Homo sapiens: one gene and its partners. The protein of the gene in region 1 purifies or fractionates together with the protein of each later gene. This does not show direct contact. Each region holds a gene or a part of one and is shown on either strand. Other genes may lie near its edges.

Region 1 (3,517 bases):
AGAATCACCTTAGCCCGGGGAAGTTGAGGCTGCAGTGAGCGGTGATCATTGCCACTGCACAGCCTAGGCAACAGAGTGAGACCCCATCTCAAAAGAAAAGAAGAAGGAAAATAAATAAGTAAATATCCAGGAATGTTGACAGCTGTTGGATTCCCCTGTATCCCCTTGAACGAAACCATCCTGTACTTCTCTAACTCCTTAGGCCCAGCAGCTTCCACACAAGAAAAGAATCCCCGGGAGTCTACAGGAAACATGGTCACAGGACAGACTGTCTGTAAAAATAAACCCAATATGTCGGATCCTGAGGAATCCAGGGGAAATGATGAACTAGTGAAGCAGGAGATGCTGGTACAGTATCTGCAGGATGCCTACAGCTTCTCCCGGAAGATTACAGAGGCCATTGGCATCATCAGCAAGATGATGTATGAAAACACAACTACAGGTATGCCAGAGTCCCTTTCTATAAGGACAGCCTTGGGGTTCTTTTGGATTTTTTAATTTTTTAAATTTTTATTAACAATAGAGATGGGGCCTTCCTTTGTTGCTCAGGCTGGTCTCCAACTCCTGGGCTCAGGCAATTCTTCTGCGTCAGCCTCCCAAAGTGCTGGTATTACAGGTGTGAGCCACTGCACCCGGCCATGGATCTTGGAGTTCTTTTCCATATTTTATTGATATATCTATCTGCTCCTTTAAAAGGCAGGGGTTCTCGGCTGGGCGCGATGGCTCATGCCTGTAATCCCTACAAAACTGGGAGGCCAAAGCAGGAAGACAGGTTGAGGCCAGGAGTTCGAGAGCAGCCTGGGCAACATAGCAAGACCCCATCTCTACAAAGAAACAAAAACTAACTGGGCGTGATGGCACGCACCTGTAGTTCCAGCTACTCGGAAGGCTGGGCAGGAGGATTGCTTGAGCCCGGGAGTTTGAGGCTACAGTGAGCTGTGGTCATGCCACTGCACTCTAGCCGGAGCAACAGAATAAGAACCTGTGTCTTAAGAAAAGAAAAAAAAAAGGCAGGGGTTCTTTTTTTCTGTTTGCTTCCTCTAGCCACTTACAGCTTATACATTTTAATGCATATAGTATTTCATGATAAGGCATCATAGGAGGAGTCGACATTCTCAGGGAAAATGCGGAAGGCCTCCATTTGCATCTTGCTACATTCAGAAAGGTTCTGTCGTTAGGTATTGGGGGAGTTTTGTGAAGTAGATAGGTGACATTTGTACATGTTCTCTCAGTGGTGCAGGAGGTGATTGAATTCTTTGTGATGGTCTTCCAATTTGGGGTACCCCAGGCCCTGTTTGGGGTGCGCCGTATGCTGCCTCTCATCTGGTCTAAGGAGCCTGGTGTCCGGGAAGCCGTGCTTAATGCCTACCGCCAACTCTACCTCAACCCCAAAGGGGACTCTGCCAGGTATATGGGGTGCTTTTGCCTTTGCTGACTTTTCCAAGGTCAGCTTCTCACAGGACTTCCCTTGTCTCCTAAAGGAAGAGGTGCATTTCTCCAGGGGAGTTCCAGATCCATAGGCAGTCCATCATAGTGGGGCTTAGGGTGGGGCTCGGTTTCCAGGGAGAGCAGTTTTGTAGCACTGTGGTGGGATAGCCCTAATCACTGTTTGCCAAGTTCAGCTTCCCAATCTTATAGTGACCGCTGATCTCTGCTGTTCCCACAGAGCCAAGGCCCAGGCTTTGATTCAGAATCTCTCTCTGCTGCTAGTGGATGCCTCGGTTGGGACCATTCAGTGTCTTGAGGAAATTGTAAGGCTTCCTGCTTTCTCTTTCTTTATTCATTCAACAAGTATTTTGGTTGTTTTTTTTTTTTTTTTTGAGACGGAGTCATGCCCCATTGCCCAGGCTGGAGTGCAATGGCACAATCTTGGCTCACTGCAACCTCCGCCTCCCAGGTTCAAGCAATTCTCCTGCCTCAGCCTCCCGAGTAACTGGAATTACATGCATGTGCCACCATGCCCGACTAGTTTTTTGTATCTTTAGTAGAGACGGGGTTTCACCATGTTGGCCGAGCTGGTCTCGAACCCTTGACCTCGTGATCCACCCGCCTCAACCTCCCAGAGTGCTGGGATTACAGGCGTGAGCCAAAGCGCCCGGCAACAAGTATTATTGAGTTATTACTATGTATTTAGCAATTTACTTAGCTCCAGAAAGAAGTATAAGACTATTTGCTTTCATGTTCCCAACTTTAAAGGAACCAACAGTCTAGTTGGTAGTGAAAAACCACAGAACATTTTTAGAACAATGCAGCAGGTAGATAATAAAGTGCCAGAATGAGTTGTACGGGTAATGGTTGTCATAGCAATAATAACAACCTCACTTATATGGTATTGAATATATGACAGGCACTCACACGTTACTCACAGTAACTTGTTTAATCCTCACGACAGCCCTGTGAGGTAGCATTATCTGCATTTTACAATGAGAAATCTGAGGCACAGAGAAGTTACTGAACTTGGCTGGTTACAGCTAGTTAGTGGCAAAGTTTGAGATTCAAACTCAGGCAATAAGAGCTCTAGAAAACATACTCTTAACTTCTGTGTTCTACTGAGGGATACAGAGTAGGAAAGAGAGCGGTTTGGGGTAGAATGGTCAAGGAAGCTTCCTGAAGGTGGTAGGACTTAAGCTGGGTCTTGAAAGATGAGTAGGATTTAGAGAATCAGAGCAAGGAGGGAGGGCATTTCAAACAGAACCCAAGAAAGAGCACAGTTCACATTGTAGAACAAAGAAGACTGTGTTCTGGTTCAAATTATCTGGAAAAGACCAGGCGCGATGGCTCACGTCTGTAATCCCAGCACTTTGGGAGGCCAAGGCAGCAGATTACCTGAGGTCTGAGGTCAGGAGTTCGAGACCAGCCTGGTCAACATGGCGAAACCCCACCTTTACTAAAAATACAAAAAAATTAGCCAGGTGTGGTGGTGGGCACCTGTAGTCCCAGCTACTTGGGAGGCTGAGGCAGGACAGTTGCTTGAACCCAGGAGGTGGAGGTAGCAGTGAGCCGAGATTGCGCCACTGCACTCCAGCCTGGGCGACAGAGGGAGACTCTGTCTCAAAAAAAAAAAAAAAAAAAAAAATCTGGAAAAGATAATAAAGTTGTGAATGTAGGTTGGAACTAAACTGTGGAAGTCCCTGAATGACTTCAGGAGTCTAGGACTTTAACTGTGTTAGCCAGGCACCCAGCATTTTAGTGAGACATTCTGCTTTGTAGCATTTGCATTGCGGGCACAGAGAGTGGAGGTGGCGCTGGGAAGCGTGCTCCTGCCAGCCACATTTTTCTCCTCACTGGGGAAAAGAAAAGAGCCTGGTGGTGGTGATTGGCCATGATGTCATAGGTCAGTTACCGGCAAAAGCCCTACAAGAGGCAGGGGAGAGCACCTGCAAACTGGGGTGCAACAGAAGGGACGTGGGGAAGCAGAGGCTGAGGAGACCAACCCATGGGAAGGAAGGCCCGTGGAGGCTGCTGCAGTGGGCAGTAACGAGGGGCTGGACTTGAGGATTGGAGAAATCACTGCAGA
Region 2 (3,517 bases), on another chromosome or scaffold:
GGCTGAGGCAAAAGAATCGCTTGAACCCAGGAGGCAGAGGTTGCAGTGTGCCAAAATCGCACCACTGCACTCCGGCCTGGAGATGGAGCAAGAGTCCACCTCAAAAAAAAAAATAGGTCACTTAATACATGCAGTGCTCTGGACTCTGGTTGTCTGGAATGATTCTTGCAGTAGAAATTATCTTAGTAGTATCTGAATTAATTTCCAGTACCAAAATTCTAAGTAGTTACACGATGTTGTAGTTACACATTTAGTATGAGTCTCCGTAACCATTTTTAAGATGAATTTTAAAAATCTGGACTTTTTACCTGTACTACAGCAGAGCCATCTGCAAATCTGGCCAGCTTTCCAGAAGATATTTCTAATTTCCTGTTTAAAAATAAAAATGCAATACAAGAAGACTTAGGTCATCTGTACAATTCCTGCTTAGTATAAAATAATAAAAGATTCTAAGGGAAGATTCTAACCCCCAACCCACCCACTCCACCAACAAAAAGGGGCAGAATCCATGATCATTATCAAAAGTAAAAGTGGAATTTAAGAGTGGCTTAAAGAAGAATACGGAAACCAAGGCACAGGATTGATCTGAACAGGAAAGTCTTTTGGAGGTTCAGAAGTTAACTGCTTCCCTAAATGTTAATTCCCATGTACCATCTATTTTTTTTTTGAGGTGGGGGGTGGTCTTTGTGCCTTGTATCTTCTTTTTCTTTTCTTTTTTTTTTTTTGAGACAGGGTCTTGCTCTGTTGCCCAGGCTGGAATGCAGTGGCACAATTACAGCTCACTGCAACCTAGAACACCTAGGCTCAAGCGATCCTCCAACTCAGCTTCCTGAGTAGTTGGGACTACATGTGCACACCACTACACTTGGCTAATTTTAGTTTTTGTATGGATGAGTTCTTACTATATTGTTTAGGCTGGTCTTGAACTCCTGGCCTCAAGCAATTCTCCTGCCTTGGCCTCCCAAAGTGCTGGGATTACAGGTATGAGCCACTGTGCCTGGCTCCATTTACCATCTTAGTACAGTCTCTTATCATCTCTCACCTTGTTGACTACAGTAATGTTTTAACATACAAACAGGATTGTTTCCCTACTTAAAAATCCTTTAGCCAGGCGTGGTGTCTCCCACCTGTAATCCCAGGACTTTGAAAGGCTGAGGCAGGCCTGATCACCCGAGGTCAGGAGTTCAAGACCAGCCTGGCCAACATGGTGAAATCCCATCTCTACAAAAAATATCAAAATTAGCTGGGCATGGTGTTGCGTGTCTATAATCCCAGCTACCAAGGAGGCCGAGGCAAGAGAACTGCTTGAACCCAGGAGGGGGAGGTTACAGTGAGCCGAGATTGTGCCAATGCAGTCCAGCCTGGGTGACAGAGTGAGACTCTGTAACAAAAACAAAACAAAACAAAACAACAACAACAACAACAACAACAAAAAACTTTAGAATTTCTCCCAATGCTTTTAGGACAAAATATAAACTCCTAAATATTGCCTATAAGGACCTTCATGTTCAACAGAAGGGGAAAGAACAATTTTCAATTCAATGAGGAAAGAGTAGCCTTTTGAGGCAATAGTGGACAACTGGATGCAAAAAAGAATGAATCTTCATAAATTAAGTCAAAATGGATCCTAGACCCAAACGTAAGAGCTAAAACAATAAAAGTTTTAGAAACAAAACACAGGAGTAAATCTTCAGAGACTTGGGCCACACAAAGTCTTAAATATGACATCAAAAGCATAAATGACAAAAGAAAAAAATAGGTAAGCTGATTTCATCAAAATTTAAAACTTTAATTAAGAAAGTAAAAGAAACACCATAGATTAAGAGAAAAATATTTGCAAACCATGTATCTGATAAGGGACTTGTGTTAATATCTAGAATATTTAAAGAATGCTTACAATTCAACAATAAAGACAACTGAATTTTAAAACTTGGCAAAGGATTTGAATAGCCATGTCTCCAAAAAAGACATACAAATGGCCAGTAAGTACATAAAAATATGCTCAATATCATTAACTATCAGGGAAATACAAATCCAAATCACAGTGAATACCACTTGACAGCTGTTATGAATGTTCCTTGTAGCATTATTCATAATAGTTCCCAAATGGAAACAACCCAAATGTCCATCAACTGATGAATGGATAAGCTAAATGTGGTATAATCCATACAACTGATTATTATTCAGCGATAAAAAGGAACAAAGTACTAATACATGTCACAACATGGATAAACCCTGACAACATTATGTTAAGTGAAAGAAGACAGTCACCAAAGACTATGTTTCCATGTAAGAAATATTCATAATAGGCAAATCCACAGCGATGGAAAGTAGATTAGTGGTTACCTGGGGCTGGGGAGAAACGCTAAGTGACTACTACTAATGAATTTCTTTTTAGGGTGATAGAAGTGTTCTAAAATTGATGGTGGTAATGGCTGCAAAACTTTGAATATACTAATATCCATTGAACTGTACACTTTATTTATCTGTATTTACTTATTTTGAGATAGGGTCTTGCTCTGTTGCCCAGGCTGGAGTGCCGTGGTGCCATCTCAGCTCATCTCAGCCTTGACCTCCCAGGCTCAAGTGATCCTCCCATCTCAGCCTCCCGAGTAGCTCGAAATACAGGTGTGCACCACCATGCTGGGCTAATTTTTAAATTTTTTGTAGAGATGAGGTCTCACTATGTTACCCAGGCTGGTCTCAAACTCCTGGACTCAAGCAATCCTCCTGCCTTGGCCTCTCAAAGTGCTAGGATTACAAATATAAGCCACTGCTCCCAGACGAGTTGTACACTTTAAATTAACTGTATGGTATGTGAATTATATCTTAATAAAGGTGTCTTATATACATGAAATAGGCAGCACTATTAGCCTTATTCCCTAGTTTCAGCAGAGAATGCAAAAAGAGGTTACTGATGTCTTGAAACAGACCAGCAAAACTTGTCAAAGAGCTCAAGATTCATCAAAAGGTGTTTTGAGATGAAACCAAGTCAGTGACCCCTGAAGATACAGAGAAAGAGAAAGATGTTGTGTCACATGAACTCAGTTTCGGCAACATTCTATCATAGTCTGGTGCTGAAAATGCACAAACCAAACACAAGCATGTAGACAGGCCCAATGCCCTACCCCAAGTAAGATTATTCTGTCTTTCACATACCAAGGAGATGAAGGAACAACCCTTAATATTTTCACCTGTTAAATACCTTTGCCAGAAGCCTGAGTTAATGAAAAGCATATTTATCTATTCAGTTAGACTCATTTTGTTAAGTTTGAAAGTCAGAACAAAGTATGTACATTTAATATATGTTAATAAATACAATGATTTTGTAGTATCAAATTCTTGACTCTGAAATATTAGTTTTTTTTTAAAATCAGGGAATATTTGAGAAATTCTAGTTGGGTTTCTATTTATTCAACACAGATGTTATAATGATGAAAGCCTACAATAAAATGGGTCTCCTGTGACTAATGGGAATGAGGTACAGAGAGGCTGATGCTGGATTAGTATGTTGAGT
Region 3 (3,517 bases), on another chromosome or scaffold:
GTCATGGTGGTGGCGCACACCTGTAGTCCCAGTTACTAGGAAGGCTGAGGCAGGAGAAGCACTTGAGCCCAGGAGTTCCAGGCTGCAGTGAGCTATGATCCCACCACTGCACTCCAGCCTGGACAACAGAGATCTTATCTCTTTAAGGAAAAAAAAAAAGGCAGTAAGAAATTTTAATTTGAAGTTACTGATTTATTTAAAGTCAAAATATAGAAAAGAAAAATATGATGTTTTTTATACTCAAATGATTACTGACTTCTCTGCCTTTAAAAAAAGAGTATGAAAGGTTTACTGTACTCGACATCCGTCTTCAGAAAAACAATGTGTCTTAATACTGGACTAGGCAGAGAACATTCACTTACCTACTCTGTTGGTGGCAAATGTATTTCTGGGAACTCTTAAGTAATCCAAGGACAAAGGAGTGTTAAAAGGTGCACTTCGTCAGGGTATGAAGACAGGTGGTTGAAATGAAGGCAGGTGTGTCTTAAGCTCTAATGGTGATTCCAAAACTATCAGGCTTGAAAATGATGTAATCAAGTCCTTAAAAGCTATAGACACGAATTTCTTCTGTGATAATGATGCATCATAATCTATAACAATGATAAATTTAAGTTAGATATTCAGAATAATCAAAGACTGTCATTGATCTAGGTAGAGCAGATCATGTAAAACAAGTCCTGATCTTCAAGAGATTTGACATAAATGGCAAAAATATTCCCATTACATAAAAAAAGAACACAAATGCAATTCCACATAAACATTTTTCATTTAACTTGCAACAACCCAAGTGATTAAAAAAAAAAAAAAAAGTCCTTTCCCAAAGGGCAGGGGCTAATGACCTATGTTTATGAGAGGTATAAAAGCACAAGACTACAAAACAAATGTCAATACTGTTTAATTCTAATATTCTTTATTATTAATTTCCAACTAATATGCAAACATGAGATCTGTTTTGAGCCAGCAAGCAACCTTAGGCATTATTCCCAAGCATATATACTATGTTACTGTTCCTCAAAATGAACTCTGCACTTCCCAGGCTCTGTTAACTTTGTTCAAGTTCTTCTCTCTACCTGGAAGGCCCTTAACCCAACCTCTGCCAGAGGAAATCTTACAGCCATAGAGCCTCTGCCAAATGCTCCCAGTTGGGAAGCAGTTTCTCCTCATCCTCCACATTTAGAACCCTATCTGAGGGGTATTTATGATCTTCCAGCTGGTCTGTTTCATGCTGTATTTATATTCATGCTGTATTTATATATACTTGTTTATCTTCCTTGACTCATGGGCAAACCTTCTGTCTTGTTCATCTTTTGTATCCATCCCATCTCCTCTCTACCAGGACTAGCCTAAAAACTTGAACATAAAGATGAGTAATTTGTTGGAATAAACTAAACAGAAGGGAAAATACTGATGCCTGTGCTTTGTATAATCATTTTTCTCATACACAGTAATAAACTACCAATGGAATCATTCTGGTTCAAACCTAATCTTCAAGGTAATCAGTCCTCCTACCTATTCTCCCTCCCTCATTTTCACATCATCAATTACTAGTGTCAAATTCTGATGGTACTTATTTTGTAATCACCTGAACTGCTATTACACCACTATTAACTCTGGAAACCAGAACTAAGGAATAACTTACCTGAAATACGTGCAAATATATTCATTTTTATGGATATCTTAAGATTATTTGCCTTATACATCAATACAACAATTCTAAATCTAACAATTACGTCAAAGTGAATAATCACTTACCACAGGACTCCACTGCAGGCTGGTCCAGTTCGAATTCAACAAACCTACTATGTTTAGTTCAACATGTGTCCTAACAGGTCTCTCTGTAACAGGTTTCATTTCAAGGAAACCCAATAATGCCAATTCGGGTTGGGATTGTTGTGAATGCTTACCCTTGCATCAAAACTATATCACAGCATTAGGTAATATTGATTTCCTCTGCTCTACCTTTTATCTAGGTTAGTTAATTTGGCTTTTCTCTAAGAAACTAGTTCTAACAAATGTTTTCCAAATATACATAATTCTTTCTACACAGAGAGAACACACTATCCTAAAGAAACCTTCAAACATTTTCAGCCAAGACCTGGCTCAAACTAAGAAAATTTTCATATATATATGATTTATACTGGCATGGTCAATTCACAGGCATAGTTGGCAACTCCTAACTTCAGTTTCATAAGCTGCTCTTAAAATAAGAGGAAGGAGTCCCCATGCAAATTGTTATATTAAAATGCATCCTCTGAAAAGCCAAAAACATTATAATATGAAGGTACTATTTTAAACTTTGACCAGTTTTACTCACTTTTTACTTGTAAACTTGATCTAACAAAAAATAAAAATGGTATCCACTTACTATATTTGACAAATTGAATGATCTACCTAAAATTTATTTTGGAAAAAAATGGTTAAAATTACTGCAGCCCTTGGAGAAAACACTGGAGAATTTTTGGGGCAATTTGCATCAGACAAATTTGTACAATATTATTATGAGTTTTGCAGTAAAATGAATCCTGTATTTAGTGCTTGATTTTTATTTAGTTTTTACTCTAATTCCATGACAGTACCTGATTTTTAGTACATCAAGGTCATAATATGAACCTCATCTCTTTAATATCTACTGATCAGAGTACAAAGCTACTTGATTTTAAAAGCCAGCCCAAATCTAGATGACATTTAAGTTAATGCAAACTTACTTTATTCAATTATTGTCCTCATACACTATATACCTACTTCCCGCCCACCTCAAGTTTGGAGGGGATCAGATCAATTCCTGTCTGTAAAACCATGTTTTTGAAAGTTCCTATTTACTTTCATTAAAGTGAGCTAGGGCAAATCAAGAGTTTTAAACTACTCCCCAAATTGACGGGAGATCTTATTTGGTCTATAAAACTCAAGCACGATAACTAGTGGAATTAAAAAATGGGGAAAATTGTTTTCTTTGAAAATCCAAACCAAAAGTCCAGACATCCCAGAGTCATATAAGAGTATGAAACGTAGAATTGTTTGGTGTTTAAAATACACTTTCAACTAAATCTACACCTAGGTCACTTTTCTTACACATTTAAAATTAAAACTAGGATCAAATACAATATATTCAGATAAATTCAGCATACTTCTATGGCCACTGCAAGGGATACCGAAGACTCATAAATGAGTAATTAAACTGCTTTAATAACACCCAGAAGTTCACAGCCCGGAAAGATTAGCTTAAGTGAAATACAATTCAACAGGTCTTATCAAAGAGTTGTTAAAAAGGTAGGCACAATATGGCCTCTGCTAAAATTTTTCTCTGGCCTTCAGTAAGACCAAGATAAAACAAAAGACAATCGTTTGAGGGCAGTCAGCTCCCACCAAGTAGCCATCAGCTGCATTTTTAAAGGAAAGACTTTATAATACAAAGTAAATCAACACATCTTTTTAAAACCAGAAGTTACAGCTTTCCAAAGTAACCTCTAAAACCACCATCACCATCCATGTATATGAAAACTCGCTGAACTCATTCATT
Region 4 (3,517 bases), on another chromosome or scaffold:
AGGCAATTCCCAGAGTGTTTCCTACTCATTGATTTAGGAATACTGCATTGTATTATCCTTTTTTTTTTTTTTTTTTGGGAGACAGAGTCTTGCTCTGTTGCCCAGGCTGGAGTGGAATGGCCCAGTCTTGGCTTACTGCAACCTCCGCCTCCTAGGTTCAGACTATTCTCTTGCCTCAGCCTCCCGAGTAGCTGGGACTACAGGCACGTGCCACCCCACCCAGCTAATCTTTGTATTTTTAGTAGAGACAGGGTTTCACTATGTTGGCTAGGCTGGTCTTGAACTCCTGACCTTGTGATCCATCCACCTCGGCCTCCCAAAGTGCTGGGATTACAGGCGTGAGCTGCTGCACCTAGTTGGTTTTTCAGTTTTAATATTTGGTTTTTTTTGGAGACGGAGTTTCACTCTTGGTGCCCAGGCTAGAGTGCAGTGGTGCGATCTCAGCTCACTGCAACCTCTGCCTTCTGGGTTCAAGCGATTCTCCTGCCTCAGCCTCCCAAGTAGCTGGGATTACAGGTGTGCACCACCACACCCGGCTAATTTTTGTATTTTTAGTAGAGATGGGGTTTCTCCATGTTGGGTCAGGCTGGTCCCAAACTCCCAACATCAGGTGATCTGCCCACCCGGCCTCTCAAAGTACTGGGATTACAGGCGTGAACCACCACGCCTGGCCCAGTTTTAATATTTCTAAAAGATGGATTTTAATCAAAGTGTATTCTCTGTGAGGCAACAGTGTGATATGGCCATGAAATAAAACAGATTTGATCTTAGGCTGCTTTGGTGGAAATATGGTAACTAGGATGAGGGAAAGAGAGAGATAGTCCTGCTCTCCTCTGCACCAAGGAGTACACCTCAAACAAGCCGTGGATACTGCTTGTTTGAGGCATCATCCTTTAGGGTTAAAAACAAAATGGAGCTCATTCAGAAGAGAGCAACTTGTACCTAGTGGGAATTCAAGTCCCTGCCATTATTATCATAATGGCTGCTGTTTAGTCAGTGTCTGCTCTGTGCAGGCACTATACAAAGATTTTGGGACACATTTCTAACACTCATATGAACCCTAAGGAGCAGTATTTATTTTATTGATAACAAAACAGATTTCAAAAGATTAAATAACTTGTCCATGTTATATACTTAATAGCAGAGCTGGGAATTAAATTTAAATTTGAAGTATGATTGACTAAGCTGGGAATGTGTAGCCAAGAGAATAGAGAACTCAGGGCAAACACAATACATATTTTGTGACTTTCTTGAGGTCTAATTAGTTAGATGTGTTTTAGTTAATGCTGAGGACAGGAAATAAACCCTGTGGATGGAGTTGAGAGATACCACCTCAGAATAAAGAGCTAAGAATCACAGCTATTCAAAGATGGATTAGACTGCTTTGGGACAGTGAGTTCTTATCACCAGGAAGTATTCAAGCATAGGTTAGCAATTGCTGGGTGGATATTGTAGAGAGGATTTGAGATTTAGTTTGCAATTCAATCACCTATCTTTAACATCCTTTCCACGCCGTAGATTTTATGGCCTTCTTTCATTAAATGAAGGCTAGAAGGGACATTGAAATAATTTGGTACTTTCCTTTGCCTCCAGAGAGAAGAGAAAAAATATGATTTCTCCTATAAAATAGCAATTGAGGTGTGAGCCTAATAGTCTTTTTTTTTTTTTTTTTTTGAGACGGAGTCTTGCTCTGTCGCCCAGGATGGAGTGCAGTGGCGCAATCTCGGCTCACTGCAAGCTCCGCCTCCCGGGTTCACGCCATTCTCCTGCCTCAGCCTCCCGAGTAGCTGGGACTACAGGCGCCCGCCACCATGCCCGGCTAATTTTTTTTTTTGTACTTTTAGTAGAGACGGGGTTTTACCATGTTAGCCAGGATGGTCTCGAACTCCTGACCTGATGATCCGCCCACCTTGGCCTCCCAAAGTGCTGGGATTACAGGTGTGAGCCACTGCGCCCAGCCCCTAATAGTCTTTTGTATACTTAATTTCAGGTGGGAGGGACTTAATTGTAATCTTTCAGAGCTTTGGACTTGGTATCAAATTATGCTGTCCTATTTGAACTGTAAAGTTAAATACTTGTGAGTTTAGTAAGAACATAATGTACATCCCATTATCTGTTTTTAATTGCCTGAAAAATGTGTTTTGTATATCATGTTAGTTTCCTATTGCTCTTGTAACAAATTACCACAAATTTATTGGCTTGGGCTGGGTGTAGTGGCTCACGTCTGTAATCCCAGCACTTTGGGAGGTTGAGGCAGGTGGATCACTGAGCTCAGGAGTTCCAGACCAGCCTGCGCAATATGGGAAAACTCCATCTCTGCAAAAAAAACCCCACAAAAATTAGCCAGGCTTGGTGGCTTGTACCTGTAGCCCCAGCTACTCAGGAGGCTGAGGTGGGAGAATCACATGAACCTGGGAGGCAGAGGTTGCAGTGAGTGAGATCGTGCCACTGCACTCCAGCCTGGGCTACAGAGCAAGACCCTGTCTAAAAAAAAAAAAAAATAGTGGCTCAAAACAACTCATACTAAAAATCCGTCTGCACTTAAGATTTTCCTGCAAGCCCTAACGTGTACCGGACAACCTGTTCAGACTCTCATGGTTGGGAATATCCTCTGATGATCTGACTCCCCTAGTCTATGGATTAAATTGATAGAAGATCTGATTTGTATAGTAAACTCCTCTGTTCATACTGGTATTGACTGTTCCTGATTCAAGATGACAGCTACAATGGTACTGTCAAAAACAGCTACGTGGGGCTGGGCACGGTGGCTCATACCTGTAATCCCAGCACTCTGGGAGGCTGAGGCAGGCGGATCTACGAGTTCAGGAGATGGAGACCATCCTGGCTAATGCGGTGAAACCCGTCTCTACTTAAAAAAAAAAAAAAAGCCAAGAGTGGTGGTGGCCACCTGTAGTCCCAGCTACTTGGGAGGCTGAGGCAGGAGAATGGCGTAAACCTGGGAGGTGGAGCTTGCAGTGAGCTGAGATCACACCACTGCACTCCAGCATCAACTGGGACCACTTGAACCCGTCCCGGTTCAAGCGACAAAAGCAAGACTCCGTCTAAAAAAAAAAAAAAAAAAAACAGCTACATGGGAATTTGTTCCTCTGCCGCATTGTGCAGTGACTGGTTTCACCCAGTACTTTGATGTGAGAATAAGCACTTTCCTCATATCAGGAATATTGTGGGTGTTTCCTGTTACTCACGGCTGAATGTAATCTTCGGTACATTACCAATTATGTTTGATTGTATGTGATTAAAAATAATGTGCACATTTTTTCCTCAAAGTTGCTGGACATGTTTCTTCGAAAGCAGTTAATAAACAATTTCTAACAATTTATCTACTAACAAATACTGTTTTTTTAAATTTACTGAGAAGAAATATTAAAATATCTCATTGACAGTCATGGATCAGATAAACTTTATAATTAGCCTTATAATTTTGCTGATTATTTGACATTGTGAGTCAGTATTCACAAAAGTTGAGGCATTTTTTTCTTCATGTATATTTTACTTT
Region 5 (4,171 bases), on another chromosome or scaffold:
AGTCTGTAACCTGAATTTATCTTGGCTGCGTTATGGCCAGTCTCCATATAGTATGGTATTCAGAAACAGGTCTTATATCCAAATAAGAAATGCAAAGTAATTTACATTTTTAGGGAAGATTTTTAAAGAGGCAACAAAGGGAGACGTATACCCCAAGAAGGTTTAACAATCCTTTCAATCATTTAATTCCTCTAAGTCTCTCTCATCATTACATATTTCTTGTCTCCCTTCTTGTTTGTCCCTCTCTCCTGCAACTCTGTGTAGTAGGACTCTGTTTTCCCCTAACTCAGCTTTTTATTATGTATTTATCAATTTATTATGTATAGATCAATTCAGTTCTTCAGTACCTTACAGCTCTTCTCTCTCTTACTCTAATCTGCACAACTGAGCCCCAGGAGGGACTTGACAAACCATGAGAAAGTCTTTAGAAGTATGGGAAATCGTGTTGGGGAAGGGAGGAAGAATATGAACGCTATGTATATTTACATGTTTTGGTTACATGTCCAGACAACCAATTTGCAAATGAATAAAGTGACGCCTAAATAAATTAGGTGATTTGACACTCTTGAGTCATACGGAGTTGGGCCTAGAACTCAGTGTTACTTCATTTGAAATAACCCTTATTATGGTTCCCTAGCAGGCCATCCTATAGCCTGCCATATATGGTCGTTTTGCACCCCTAGACGACAGAACGCTAGGGAGAGTAAGGAAGGCTGAGTTTTTGCTTCTACTAGGTTCGATGACCTTGGGCAGGTTGTCCTCTCTAAGGCTCTGTGTTTTTCTTCATAAGAAGGGTTAGACAAGATGAACTTTTGGGTCATGTCCAGCACTAAAATTCCTTGCTTCTGATCTGTCCCGGGCCCTGCGGCTGTGGCAGTGGTGGTATCGAGCTAGTCAAGAAGCTTCGCCCCTATTTGTCCCCCACCCTATTGGGGGAGAGGGAGAACCTCTCCCTCTTGGTTGCTTCTTTAGTGTCCTTGTAGGACCCACGTGGTGGTCATCTCCCGTCACGGGGGTCCAGTCTTGGCTCTGCGGGCTTCCCAGGGGCCACATAGGGAGAGGATCCTTCATGCATCAGAGTATCGCAGGCCAGAGTCTATGCCTTATCCCCACCTGTTTGGAACCAGCTTCCAAACCGTGGTCCCCAGCCTTCAGCAGGCCTACCGCGCAGGCGCAACCACCAGCCTGGCGCGAGGCGGACAAACGCCGAGGCCGAGGCAAGGTGAGAGGGCGGGGCTGGCAAGACCCCGCCTCCGTGGCGTCACGTGGGAGGCGGAGTCGGAAGTGTGACGGCGTGCGCGGGGCGGGGCTACTGCTGCGCGCGGGCGCGGGGGCGGGGCGGGGCGCGGCGCGGCGCGGCGCTCGCGGCTGCTGCCTGGGAGGGAGGCCGGGCAGGCGGCTGAGCGGCGCGGCTCTCAACGTGACGGGGAAGTGGTTCGGGCGGCCGCGGCTTACTACCCCAGGGCGAACGGACGGACGACGGAGGCGGGAGCCGGTAGCCGAGCCGGGCGACCTAGAGAACGAGCGGGTCAGGCTCAGCGTCGGCCACTCTGTCGGTCCGCTGAATGAAGTGCCCGCCCCTCTAAGCCCGGAGCCCGGCGCTTTCCCCGCAAGATGGACGGTTTCGCCGGCAGTCTCGGTGAGTACGGCTGGGGAGTCCTGCGTCTTCTGCGAAGGGTAGGAACTTTTTTCCTTCCGCACACAGCCCAGGCCCTGCCCTCCCGCCTGCCCCTCGGGGTGGCAGCGGCTCCACTGCACATGTTCCCTTCGAGGCTGCCGCCCCTCCGCGGACTCCGGTGGACTGAGGGCCCCTCCCCCATGTCCAACTCTCCTCTGTGTCAGACCCTCCTTTCCTCCCGGAGCCCCTTTCAGTGCGGGGCCCTCGTTCCCCCAAAGTGGGAACCCCTTCCTTCTCAGGCCCCCCGATAGCTGGCACACCCCTCCCCGTACACTCACGGCTCCCTCCACTTACCCCCCTTCAGAGTTGGGACATTTCTTCAAATCCAGGCTCCTCTTCAGGGTACAACCTTCCACCACCTTTCCACATACACGCCTCTCTTTCAGGGTGGGGATCGCCTTCACCCGAACAGAGGCTCCTTTTTAGGGGAGGGACCCTCATTCCCTCTTCAGGAAGGGGGCATCCCCCGCCCCCAAGTCTTCACTTTAGATTTGAAGGCGACTTTCCAGTATCCTTCAGAGTAGTAGGCAACTTCCTTTTCAATCCCTCCACTTCTCTGAGCATTTTGCAGTGGTGGAGAGACCTAGAAGCATCGGAGCATCATTTGCTTAATGCAGGAAAGGAAGAGGTGCATCTGTGTTGGGGGACCCTCTTTAAGAGTGAAAGCAGAAGTGTTTTCTGGTTCTGCATACATGCTGGGGAGAAGTGATTCTGCCCAATGAATCAATAGGAAAGGGGGCCTCTATCAGGGAAGGAAAGGATTCTCCATTTTTGGAAGATGTTGTCTTTGTGGAATGGAGAAAGGGAAGAGGTTATTAAATAGGCTGAAGTGCCTTTTCAGTGTTCCTTTCACCAGATGAAGGTAATCTTCTGGCTAGGAAAATCAAAACTCCAGGCTAGTATTCGCTGCCCTAGAAGCTGAATCTGGAATTACTATTCTTCGAGGCCATTGAAATCTAGTAAAAGATTAAGTTCAACTGTTAGAATGGTGAGAGAAACAGTTTCAGCTTTGGCTGATAACGCAGTTGTGTGATACCTACTGCTGGAACTGTATTTTGAGTTTTTTATGTGCAGGTAGCTTGTATTCAGACGCCTTTCTTTTACATTTCTTGATAATAAGTCTCTACTTGGTTAATGTTCACTGATCAGTGAGCAGTCTGGCCATAGGCCGTACTATATCCAGATAATATCGAGATGAGATGGATTTTTAAAATCTAAAGTAAAAAAGTAAGTCAAAGAGCAATGGGCCTATTATAGATATTAAATAGTAAAACCTATAATTTTGGCCTTCCCTTTTTCTTGGGCAGAAAAAATTGTCGTTATATTGCTTTCAGAGTGGAAATCCTAAAATAGGAGGCAACTGAGTGTTGTGTTACTCTTTCCTCCTCAAAGGCACCTGTTGTCCATTATCTAACCTTTGATGTCTTGTAATTCCTTACTTAGGTTGGGCTCTTTTTAGAGAGACATCCATTTTTCCCTGGTTCTTTTTTAGCTCCATGCGTTGGTTTATTCACAGTAAGTGTTGGACCGAAAAACTTGTCCTATATGTCCGCTGAAGGGCTGATCTTATACTAAAGTAAAAATTGAGTGTCTTCTTAGGGGATGTTGTGGAGAGCTGTGCTATCTTTATACTGTATTGGGTCCTCATCCTGTAGGAGTGGTGAGATCACTTTAACTTCTTTCGTGTTGGCTCTAAAGATTTCTGGAGGGCTTGTTAAAGCTTCATCTTCTGTAAGTGTTTAGGAGGAGTCTTTCTCACCAGTTGGGGCACTTAATGTTTATTTTCAAACATTGATTATGCTTTGTAATAGCTTTCTTCTTTCTTAACCAGTTTATGAGGCAAGTGATACAAAAGACCGAGAGATGAAGATGAATTGCAGTTGGGGCTCACACTTTTCATAAAGAGCGTCATTGTTGACCCTAATGTTGGATTTAAAAAATTCATTTGATGCCATGCTTTGGGTGGTATGTGATGAGACTTTCCTTTAGATATGGTGTTAATCAGGAGCAGAGGAGATATGCCTATCAGAGGAACCTGCATCTGCAGAGAGGGAAGGAAATGGTTCCTGGCAGTATTTCTGGAGCTGTTCTTGATGAAGATACTTCTCAGTGGGAGCTCTGTGCTTTCTCTTTCTGTCCCCCTTGCAAGAGTAAAACTAGGCCCCATCTTAATTGAAACCTTAAAGGGGTGGGGGAGGAGTAGTGCTGGTATATTTTACTGGTAGTCTTTAAGCGGAGCTTTGCTCAGCTCTTGCCAAATTGCTTGTTTCTGTTCTCTGCAGTTAATTAGCCTAGAGCTTAGAGTTACATTGATCTTTATTTTACCATCAGGAGAGCCATGAATATAAAGGCAAGCACTTCTACTCTAGTAGGTGTTTAAAAACTTTTTTTTTTTTTAAACAAGAAGTCAAAACGTGAAGTTCTTCTGGGGTTACAACTATTGAAAGCATTTATTCTCAAGGAAGTATGTGTGTATTTCCTTTTACATATTAG

Evidence for each region.
Region 2: the proteins of NCAPD2 (region 1) and PNPT1 fractionate together in Homo sapiens (co-fractionation; one large-scale study listed by BioGRID). This does not show direct contact.
Region 3: the proteins of NCAPD2 (region 1) and IVNS1ABP fractionate together in Homo sapiens (co-fractionation; one large-scale study listed by BioGRID). This does not show direct contact.
Region 4: the proteins of NCAPD2 (region 1) and ACBD3 fractionate together in Homo sapiens (co-fractionation; one large-scale study listed by BioGRID). This does not show direct contact.
Region 5: the proteins of NCAPD2 (region 1) and EML4 fractionate together in Homo sapiens (co-fractionation; one large-scale study listed by BioGRID). This does not show direct contact.

The regions. Positions count from the first base shown.
Region 1 is NC_000012.12:6,521,596-6,525,112, forward strand, and holds part of NCAPD2 (condensin complex subunit 1), read left to right. Parts: intron 1-202; coding exon 203-442; intron 443-1,232; coding exon 1,233-1,407; intron 1,408-1,666; coding exon 1,667-1,751; intron 1,752-3,517. UniProt on the Homo sapiens protein: Regulatory subunit of the condensin complex, a complex required for conversion of interphase chromatin into mitotic-like condense chromosomes.
Region 2 is NC_000002.12:55,687,337-55,690,853, forward strand, and holds part of PNPT1 (polyribonucleotide nucleotidyltransferase 1, mitochondrial precursor), read right to left. Parts: intron 370-3,517; coding exon 309-369; intron 1-308. UniProt on the Homo sapiens protein: RNA-binding protein implicated in numerous RNA metabolic processes. Catalyzes the phosphorolysis of single-stranded polyribonucleotides processively in the 3'-to-5' direction. Mitochondrial intermembrane factor with RNA-processing exoribonulease activity.
Region 3 is NC_000001.11:185,310,733-185,314,249, forward strand, and holds part of IVNS1ABP (influenza virus NS1A-binding protein), read right to left. Parts: exon of another isoform or gene 1,753-3,517; intron 591-1,752; 5' UTR 363-590; intron 1-362. UniProt on the Homo sapiens protein: Involved in many cell functions, including pre-mRNA splicing, the aryl hydrocarbon receptor (AHR) pathway, F-actin organization and protein ubiquitination.
Region 4 is NC_000001.11:226,176,732-226,180,248, reverse strand, and holds part of ACBD3 (Golgi resident protein GCP60), read left to right. Parts: intron 1-3,517. UniProt on the Homo sapiens protein: Involved in the maintenance of Golgi structure by interacting with giantin, affecting protein transport between the endoplasmic reticulum and Golgi. Involved in hormone-induced steroid biosynthesis in testicular Leydig cells.
Region 5 is NC_000002.12:42,167,998-42,172,168, forward strand, and holds the start of EML4 (echinoderm microtubule-associated protein-like 4), read left to right. Parts: upstream 1-1,355; 5' UTR 1,356-1,614; coding exon 1,615-1,639; intron 1,640-1,972; exon of another isoform or gene 1,973-2,234; intron 2,235-4,171. UniProt on the Homo sapiens protein: Essential for the formation and stability of microtubules (MTs). Required for the organization of the mitotic spindle and for the proper attachment of kinetochores to MTs. Promotes the recruitment of NUDC to the mitotic spindle for mitotic progression.